Linked DNA regions of Homo sapiens: region 2 is linked to region 1. Evidence: fine-mapped expression QTL. Tissue or cell type: esophagus mucosa. Region 1 holds a variant in brackets; the other region holds the start of a gene. All regions are shown on one strand. Distances are from middle to middle.

Evidence for each region. PIP is the estimated chance that this variant, and not a neighbour inherited with it, causes the effect. A credible set is the group of variants that fine-mapping cannot tell apart.
Region 2: it holds the start of PLA2G4D, and the variant in region 1 is the best candidate, but not a certain one, in a credible set for the expression of PLA2G4D in esophagus mucosa (GTEx, PIP 0.62).

The regions. Positions count from the first base shown.
Region 1 is chr15:42,041,441-42,045,678 of GRCh38, forward strand. It overlaps LOC105370793 (a long non-coding RNA gene), which reads left to right and starts at 1,387. Exons shown (of 3, transcript XR_932177.1): 1 at 1,387-1,463; 2 at 1,746-1,835; 3 at 2,507-3,150. It also overlaps a transcript of PLA2G4E not described here. RefSeq lists a silencer at 3,908-4,068. The variant A/G (reference allele first, on the strand shown) is at 2,612.
Region 2 is chr15:42,092,272-42,096,509 of GRCh38, forward strand. PLA2G4D (phospholipase A2 group IVD) reads right to left here and starts at 2,291. Exons shown (of 20, transcript NM_178034.4): 1 at 2,144-2,291. The coding sequence starts at 2,188. RefSeq lists enhancers at 1-141, 1,116-2,090.

The sequences.
Region 1 (4,238 bases):
ACGAATCCAGTTGCATCCATAAATTTACATAGGAGCAGACGAGCCTCCTGGGGTTGGGGAAAGAGGTTGGGACTCGGACTCCTCATTGAGGATTCAAGTTATTGCAGTGTATATGATGAACTAAAGAGACCTCCCCAGGAGACCCATTGAAGTCAGATGACAAGGAAGGACACTGGGAGTTCCAGAGAGGAAATATGCCCTAAAGAAGAGGGAAGTTTAGACCAGTGTCCTGTACTGAGTATTGGGGTTTACCTTATCAGAACCACTCTTTCATGCTTATTCACTTTGCTACCGTGGGTCTCTTTGAGGGGAACTGGCTCTGTGTGTGTGTGTGGAGGGACAGAGCTGCATCATTATCAACAGACACTTGGTCACCAGGTCCCTTTGCTGAGGGACCCTCCTCATTGCTCCTGACAGGGCAGATGCATTCTTTAGCCTGGGCAAATCAGCAGAGAGGCTTTTGTAAAGTTTCAAGTCAGCAGACAAATGATGGGGGTCTGTCTCATGGACGGGGACAATGGCCATGCGAATTCTCTGGGCTATTTGGAGGGAAATCTTGACTTCTCTGCCAACTTGACAAGGAGTGGAGAGGAATCATTGTAATTTGCATATCAATGACATTTTCTAGGCTTTTGGGTGTTCATAGCACACTCCAAATGGTCATAGCATCAGAAATTGGAAACAACCTAGATGATATGATGTTATGTTATGTAGCCATTTTCAAAAATCTGGTTTTTAATAGCAGAGAAAAATTAATCACTATTCACTGATATGTAGAAATGACAAGTTTTACAATACGAGCTTAATTTTACATATATCAATATACGTATATATAAAGAAAATTTATTTCTAAATATATGTGCCTATAAAAAAGACTGGAAGGAAGTATATTAAGGGTTCAGGAAGTTATTTCTGGATGATGTTATTGGCAATGTTTATTTTCTCTATTACATTTTTCAAATTTTGTAATGTCTATACTGAATACATATATTATTTATAATCAGAAGAACAATTTTGTAAAAAGAACATTATTATAAATAAAGTTGCTCTTTAAATAAAGCAAAAAATGCATTTAGAGACAGGGAAAGAAAGCTAACATTTATTTCATGCCTACCATGTCCCAGGCCACCATACCAGATATTTATATATGTCAGCTCTGTTAAAAGTATCTTCTCCCATGGCCATCCTCTGGGAGTAGCAGGAGGTGTAGCTTGAGGTGGGGTCAGGCAAACCCACCCAGGGAAGGAATTTTTTCTCAAGAGCTGGGAAGCCCTTTCTTCCTTCTACTAAGCAGCTGGCCATCTGCCCACCAACCAGATCCTTCTCTTTGCCTTGGGTGAAACATCCACTCATTGGGCAAGGAAGGGGGCAGAGCCGTGGCTCACTGAAAATGTGACTGAAGCAGATACTGGAGCCCAGGCCAGCAGGGGCTTGAAACTATAGAGCAAGGAAGGCAACTTCAGGTATGAAAAGGGCAGTCAAGCACCAGAAAGGGTTAGACTGATATTGTGCCTGACCTGATGGTGGAAATAGGGCCTTTCTGAGTGGGTAGATTTGACCTTGGTGTAAGAAAGAACTTAGTCACTTGGAAGGTAATAAGCTTCCATTCTTAGAATTATGCAAGGGGTTCCTGCCTGGAAGGTGCAGAGGAGACTCCTACACTGGGCAAGCGGGGGTGGCTCTGGAAACCTAATGATCTGTTCCAGTTTTGAGAGTCTGTTACTCTCCATCCCACCATGCCCCAGATTCAGAAGACAGCTTGCTCACCCTGTCAGCTGCTGGAAGCATGTGGGAGAGGCCTTCCGGAGGCCAGGCCCACCTTTGTTGCCTAAGAGGTAGGTGGCTCTGACGGTGGGAACTTTACTAGGCAGGGAGGAGGGAACAGGGAAGGGCCAGCCTGGCCTAGTGAGGGAAATATGTGAGGAAGGTGGGCCTGTGGGCACCCGTAGGTCAGGACCTGTGGGTGGCCATCCACTCGGCCTTTCTCAGAACCAGCCCTGAAACTCATCTCGTGGGGCAAGTCTGATGCGAACATGGAGTCTCTTGTCCTGGGTGGCTCTCACCTGCTAATAGACACATCCTCACAAATGGTAGGTATTTAGGGAGCATGGTGATGGAGGATACAAAAAAAAAAAAAAAAAAAACAACCACAAACCAAAGAGGCCAGTGACAAAAAGCTTACAACAACAACAGAAGTTCACAGGCAAGACCCATAAGACAAATGTAGAGGAAAGAGCAGGAGATCTAGAGTTAGAGAGACCCGAGTGCGTATCTTGGCTCTGGCACTTACTGGGGCAGCAGTCAGCAATTACTTTATCTCTCTGAAACTCACTGTTCACTTTCCTCATCTGTAAAATGGAGTTAATAGTACTGATTTCACAGGATTGTTGTAAAGATTATATATTATATATACATAAACACCGTACATATACATCTGGCACACAGAATCTGGCATGTCATAAACCTTAATAAATTGTCATGGTTACTGTTATTCTTTTTGCTACAGGACAAATAAATTGGAAAGAACTAACCGTAAGTGTACTTGGACCGCAAAGAACCTCAAGGTTGGCATGGGCTGGAGAAGTCAGTGAAAGCTTTGTTCACTGATGAC[A/G]GAGACATTTGAGCACCTCCTAAATGCTAGGCACTGTGCTACAGGTTCCGAGTATCAAAATCAACATGGTGCCTGCTCTTGGGAAGCTTCTAGTGAAGTAGCTTTGAAAGAAAATAATTTCTAACCATCAACTGCGATAAGAATCAGGAAGGAAAGTAACAGGGTGCTACGAAAGACGGGAACGGATTCTGATTTGGGGAGACGTCAGGGATGACCTCCCAGAGGAAGCAGCCTTGAAGCTGAAACCTGTAGGAAAATCGGGGTTAGCTACATGCGGGCTGTGGGGAGAGTCCCCCAGGCTGAAGGTACAGCAGTGCAAGGCGTTGAGGAGTGGAAAAGGCTGGCGTGTTCAGAAACTGAGCACCTGTGTCTGGGGCACGGTGAGGAAGGAGTGATGAGGTCAGAGAGGCCTTGGAAGCCATGGTCAAGATTTGGGATTTTATCTTAAGAAACTGGATGCCACCGAAGGGTATTAAGCAAGGACAAAAAACCAAACACCGCATGTTCTCACTCACAGGTGAGAACTGAACAATGAGAACACTTGGACACAGGGTGGGGAACATCACACACTGGGGCCTGTTGTGGGATGGGGGGAGGGGGGAGGGATAGCATTAGGAGATATACCTAATGCTAAATGATGAGTTAATGAGTGCAGCACACCAACGTGGCACGTGTATACATATGTAACAAACCTGCATGTTGTGCACATGTACCCTAAAACTTAAAGTATAATAAAAAAAAAAGAAAGGAAGTGATGTGAATGAGATCATCTGGCTGCTGGGTGGGGACAGAATTGGGCAGGACAGGGACAGGAAGATGTGTTGTAGTGGCTCAGATGGGAAGCAAATGGTCACTTGGGCCCGGGTAGGGGGCAGAGATGGAAGCAGTGGTGGACTCGAGAGGTATTTCTGAGCAGAACCTACACGGCATGGTGATAGATTAGATATGAGGGCATCCAGTGGGCTTCAGTGACCCGGCAGGATAGATTAGATATGAGGGCATCCAGTGGGCTCCAGTGACCCAGCAGGTGAAGGTACACAGGGCTGGTCTTGAAGGGGAGGCTGTCAAGATCCCACGTGGAGGCCGGTGGGGAGTCTCAGGGGGCTGAGCCTTGAGTTAGGGGCAAGGTTTGGAAAGGTGGCAGCTGGGGAAGGGAGACCCTCTACGATGGGAGGTAGCAGAACTGGGGAAAGAAGTAGGAATGAGCTTGCCTCACTCCACGTGGGTGGCACAGAGTAGGGCAAGCCCTGCTGAGAGGGAAGGGCATGAGCTGGGGGCCAAGAGTGTGAAACCGGGAGGATGGGGTGGGGTGGGGCCCCTGGAGTGGGCGGAGGCCTCTGCCTCTCATGAGATGCAAGAGATAGTAGGGAGCTGTTAGGTTCCCAGGCCAGCAGCCAGCCACCCAGGCAGCACCGGCACTCCACGGCAGTGCCGGGGGATGAAAAGGCATGAACAAGCAGCTGCAGAGCTTGTGCTTTCTGAGAGTATTTACTGACCACCTGCTCTGTGCTCAGAAAGATAACGGGATGTTTATGGAAAAAGTCTCTTGGCTCCCAGGACACCACTTTCTCATGGGTTGCTTCCAGCCTCACTGCCTGCTGCTTTGCATCTACTCTGATGGCTCTTC
Region 2 (4,238 bases), 51 kb after region 1:
AGCAGGGACAGAGTTAGAATTCAAACTTCCAGGCCAGAGCTCACAACCCCCGTCTATTCTACCTTCCCAGGACTTTTGCTTCTTTGGAAAAGCATGCAACTCTTCCCTCATTGCCCCACGGATATCTAGGATATCTAGACACTAGATTTTCATAGATTTGTCTAATTTGACTAACAGATATTCATAGATTTGTCACAGATTTGACTAATATGATTACTGAGATAACCGACACTTTAACTGATATGAATCTTTTCCCCTGAGGGCATAGGGGCGTCACATTCCCTTCTGAAAGCTCCTCCCATCTGAAATACCTCCTTAATTGATGACTAACCCGGAGGCTTCTGGAGGAAATTCGTCAGCCCAGTCACCTGTAGGATCCCCCGAATGCCTCCCTGCTGAGGGTCTCAGCCACTCTGAACCTTGCGCAGGGACCCCAGAGGCTCTGGGCCATCCTTCTTCCGGTGGAGAGGCCCAGGGCACACGTTTGCCAGGAAGTTTTGTGAGAGGCTCTGTGCTGCCCCGTGCCCATCTTGGGAGATGTGGCCCAAGAGAGCTTAAGGGGGTTGGGTCTCCCCAGCTGGGGTCCAGAGTATCCTTGCCCGTGATCCTGGGTGTTCGGCAGGAAGAGAGAAATGAGCAGACCCACCCTGTCGTCTGCTGGCACTGGCGCCCTGTGGTGGGGCAATGCAGGAGGTCAGAGAGAAGAGGAGTGGAACCCCTGGGCACAGCCCCAGGCCCTGCACCTCCCTCAGGCTGGGCTGAGTCTCCTGGACCACACGGCAGGCACGTTCCAGAACAGGTCCCGGATGGCCAGCCTAGCCTGCTGGCCCAGGTCCCGCTCTGGGGCAGGTTCCAGGCCCCTGTTCCAGCAGAAATGAGGCTAGGCTAAACCGCTGCTGAAGCTTGCCAACCACAGGAACCGACTTGAAGGCTGGAGCTTGAGGACCTGGTCCTGGGGACTCAGTCCTGTGAATGCCAGCTGGAGGCGAGGTGCTTTCCAGGTGTGGGGCCGACTGAGGCTCCCAAATTGCTGACACTTAGGCTTTTGTTTTACCCAGGAGCTAGACCTAGAGCAGGCTGAGGGAAAAGGGGAAAGGGGCACAGCCTTCGCCAGGGAGATGAGTTTAAAGGGGGAAATATTCCAGAAGCCTCCACAATGGGCCGTTCTGGGCTCAGGGCTCCTGATGGGACGGGTGGTGGAGCCAGGGCCGCCAGCCCCTCCACTGGCCTGCATCCGTGGACTCCCCCGCATCCAAATGTCCGCTGATGTCTGACTCGTGGGTGGATCCACCTGACCTCAGGCTGGGGCAACAGTGTGGTCCTTCACTGAGGGGTCCCTCTCATCTTCCCCCAGGGCTCCTTAGTGTCTGCCCTGCCCCAGGCTGAGCCTCTTCCAGGAGCACCAGTCTGGAGCTGCTTGTCTGGATCCAGCTTGGGCCTGGGTCTCAGGGCCACAGCTCTAGAAGCCCAGCGAGGTCTGCATATGAGGCAAAGGACCTCAGGACAGTGACCTTGACACACTTAGCCTCATTCCTGGCCACCACCTGGGGCACCGGGGGGAGACCTCAGGAGCCAGCTCTGCTGGCCTTGGTCCCTGGCAGAGGATGAAAACTCTGGGCTTTGGAGAAACACATGACAGAGGGTGGGGGGGTGGCGAGAAGTTTGCAGGCCTCCTTGGCCTGGATGCAGCCCCACAGCTCTTGGGCCTACTAAATACTTGGCAGTGGATGGGGATTTGGGCCCCCAGAGCTCTGGAGACACACAGGGTGATCCCAGGGCTCCAGCCAGTTCTGGGAAGTCTGCCGGCCTGTGGTGGTGGGGCTGTGGGCCTGGTGGGTCTCCTTTTGTGACACACCCAGCCACTATGTTCTCCGATGATGGTGGGGGAGAGGTCCCTAAGGACACTGCTGTGGTCGCTGGTGGTGGGGAGAGGAAGCTCTGCTGACCAGACTCACGTTTCCCAGCCCCCGCATCTACGGATGCTGCTCACCCACCCCACCCACTCTGCATCCCAAATCTCAGACTCCCTCGCCCTCTGGCCCAGTCTGAAATCACCCTGATTCCAGCTATCACACTTCCCAGAATGCACCCTGGCTCCAGGCCTGCCCTGACTGGTGCCCACATGCTCTGCAGACACTGTTACCTGGTAAGGGTGGCCAGGTGGTCCCCCAGGTGACAGGCTCTCCATGCTAGCCCTTCCAGCTTCACTCCAGGCCCAGCCCTTGCCAAGATGCTGGCTCTCTGGCTGAGTGGCAGCGACGGTCCCAGTGGGATAGGACCAGCATGAATCTGCCAGCCTTCAATGAGCCACGATCCTATAAACAGGTTGGGGCTCCACCCCCAGGTCGCTCCTTCAGCCCTGCACCTGCCCCTCTTCCCCAAGAGGCTGGGTCAACCAGCATCTCCAGAAACCTCTGGCAGGGCTCCAGGACCTGCAGGCGGAGCACCTCTTCCAGACCTGGAGTTTCAGGACAGAAGATGCAGCCAGGGGGAGGCAGACGAGTCCCAGGAGTGGTGGCAGGAAGCTGGTTCCCCTGAGGCTGAGGGCAGAGGATGGGGTGGGGGTAGAGCTGAGGAAACCCCCAGCTCCACTGGAGCCAGGGCCAGCCTCTAGAGGAGGAGGGCTGAGCACCTGAGACTAGGCAAGGAGCCAGCCCTCCTGGGCAGCTCTGTGCAGCAGGGAGTTCAGGGGATGAAAACAAGAGCAGTCGTGGTGACAGGCCCGGGCTAGTGTATCCTCCTCACCTGACCTGAGCAAGCTCCAGGGAGCAGCACAGGGGTCTGGACATTCCCCACCACAAGCCCCTCACCTCCATGCGGCGGGCCCTAAGAATTTAGGGGATTTCAATTAGACTTTGTAATAAAAGTAAAAGAGACCAATCAGGAGATTCTTAGGTTATGAAAATTGTAGAAGTAAACTTTGTGAAGCCACCTCACCGCTTAAAGCATTCAGTGTACACATTAGCACTGAACGCTCTCCTAAAATGACATGAATTCAGTCATTTTACCATCAATTCTGTAAACAGTTGAACAGCGATGATGTTGTTTTTCAAAGCAAATGAAACTGAGTTAATCTTAAAATACTACAAGTGGATCTAAAATGTATTATTTCAGAGTTGGCCAAAACAGGAATCTAATGGTCTATGAACAAGTAAACATTATTTGGGTGGAAATATCTGTCATTTGCATGATATAAAATTTAATAAAAAAATGAATGTAGTGGTTGAGCATGGCAGCTAACGCCTGTAATCCTGGCACTTTGGGAGGTCAAGGAGGGAGAGTTGCTTGAGGCCAGGAAATGGAGACCAGCCTGGGCAACATGTTGAGACCCCATCTCTACCAAAAAAATTTTCTAAATTAATGGGGCATGGTGGCACGTGTCTATGGTCCCAGCTACTCAGGAGGCTGAGGTGGGAGAATTGTTTGAGCCCAGGAGTTCAAGGCTGCAGTGAGCTATAATTGCACCTTTGCACTTCAGCCTGGGTGACAGAGTGATACACTGTCTCTTTAAAAAAAGGGGTGGGGGGGAAAGAAGTAAATGTAATATGTAGAAAACTACAAAGAACAAGTCATTTCAAGTGGGTCACAGACAAAGCAATACAGAATCACCCAGCTGGTGACTGGAAAGGCTGGGATTGTACTGTCTGTCCTGAAGCCCACCCACCAGAACTTCCCTGGTCCTTGGTGGCCTCCATTGTTTAGGCCCGTTCCAGAGGAATCCTGGGACCTTAGGAGTCCTGATTAACCTCCCTGCCCCTGTCATCCCCATACGCCCGCCGGGATCCGCTGGGGGAACCTAGGGAGGCAGAGCCGCAGCAACACGTTCCTTGAGGTGACCCCAGCCCCAGCGCCCCACTCCAGTACGGGAGGGCCAGACACCCCCTCACCCCCAGAAGACAGCTGGCTGTGCCTGGAGGAGGACGTGGTGCTCAGTTTCCCCACCTGTGCAATGATGGTGTGGTAGATGCTGGGCCTGGTGAAAACTACGAAATTCCTAATTCAGAGATTCTTAATTTGGGTCTAGGGTCCATGGATGGGAATTAGGATACTTTTAACCGTCCCTGAAATTGTATACAAAATTATGTGACTATGTATGCATGTGTGAATGTTTCCAGAGAAGGGGTCTAGAACAGCACAGTCCAGTAGGTGACTATGTATGCATGTGTGAATGTTTCCAGAGAAGGGGTCTAGAACAGCACAGTCCAGTATGTGACTATGTATGCATGTGTGAATGTTTC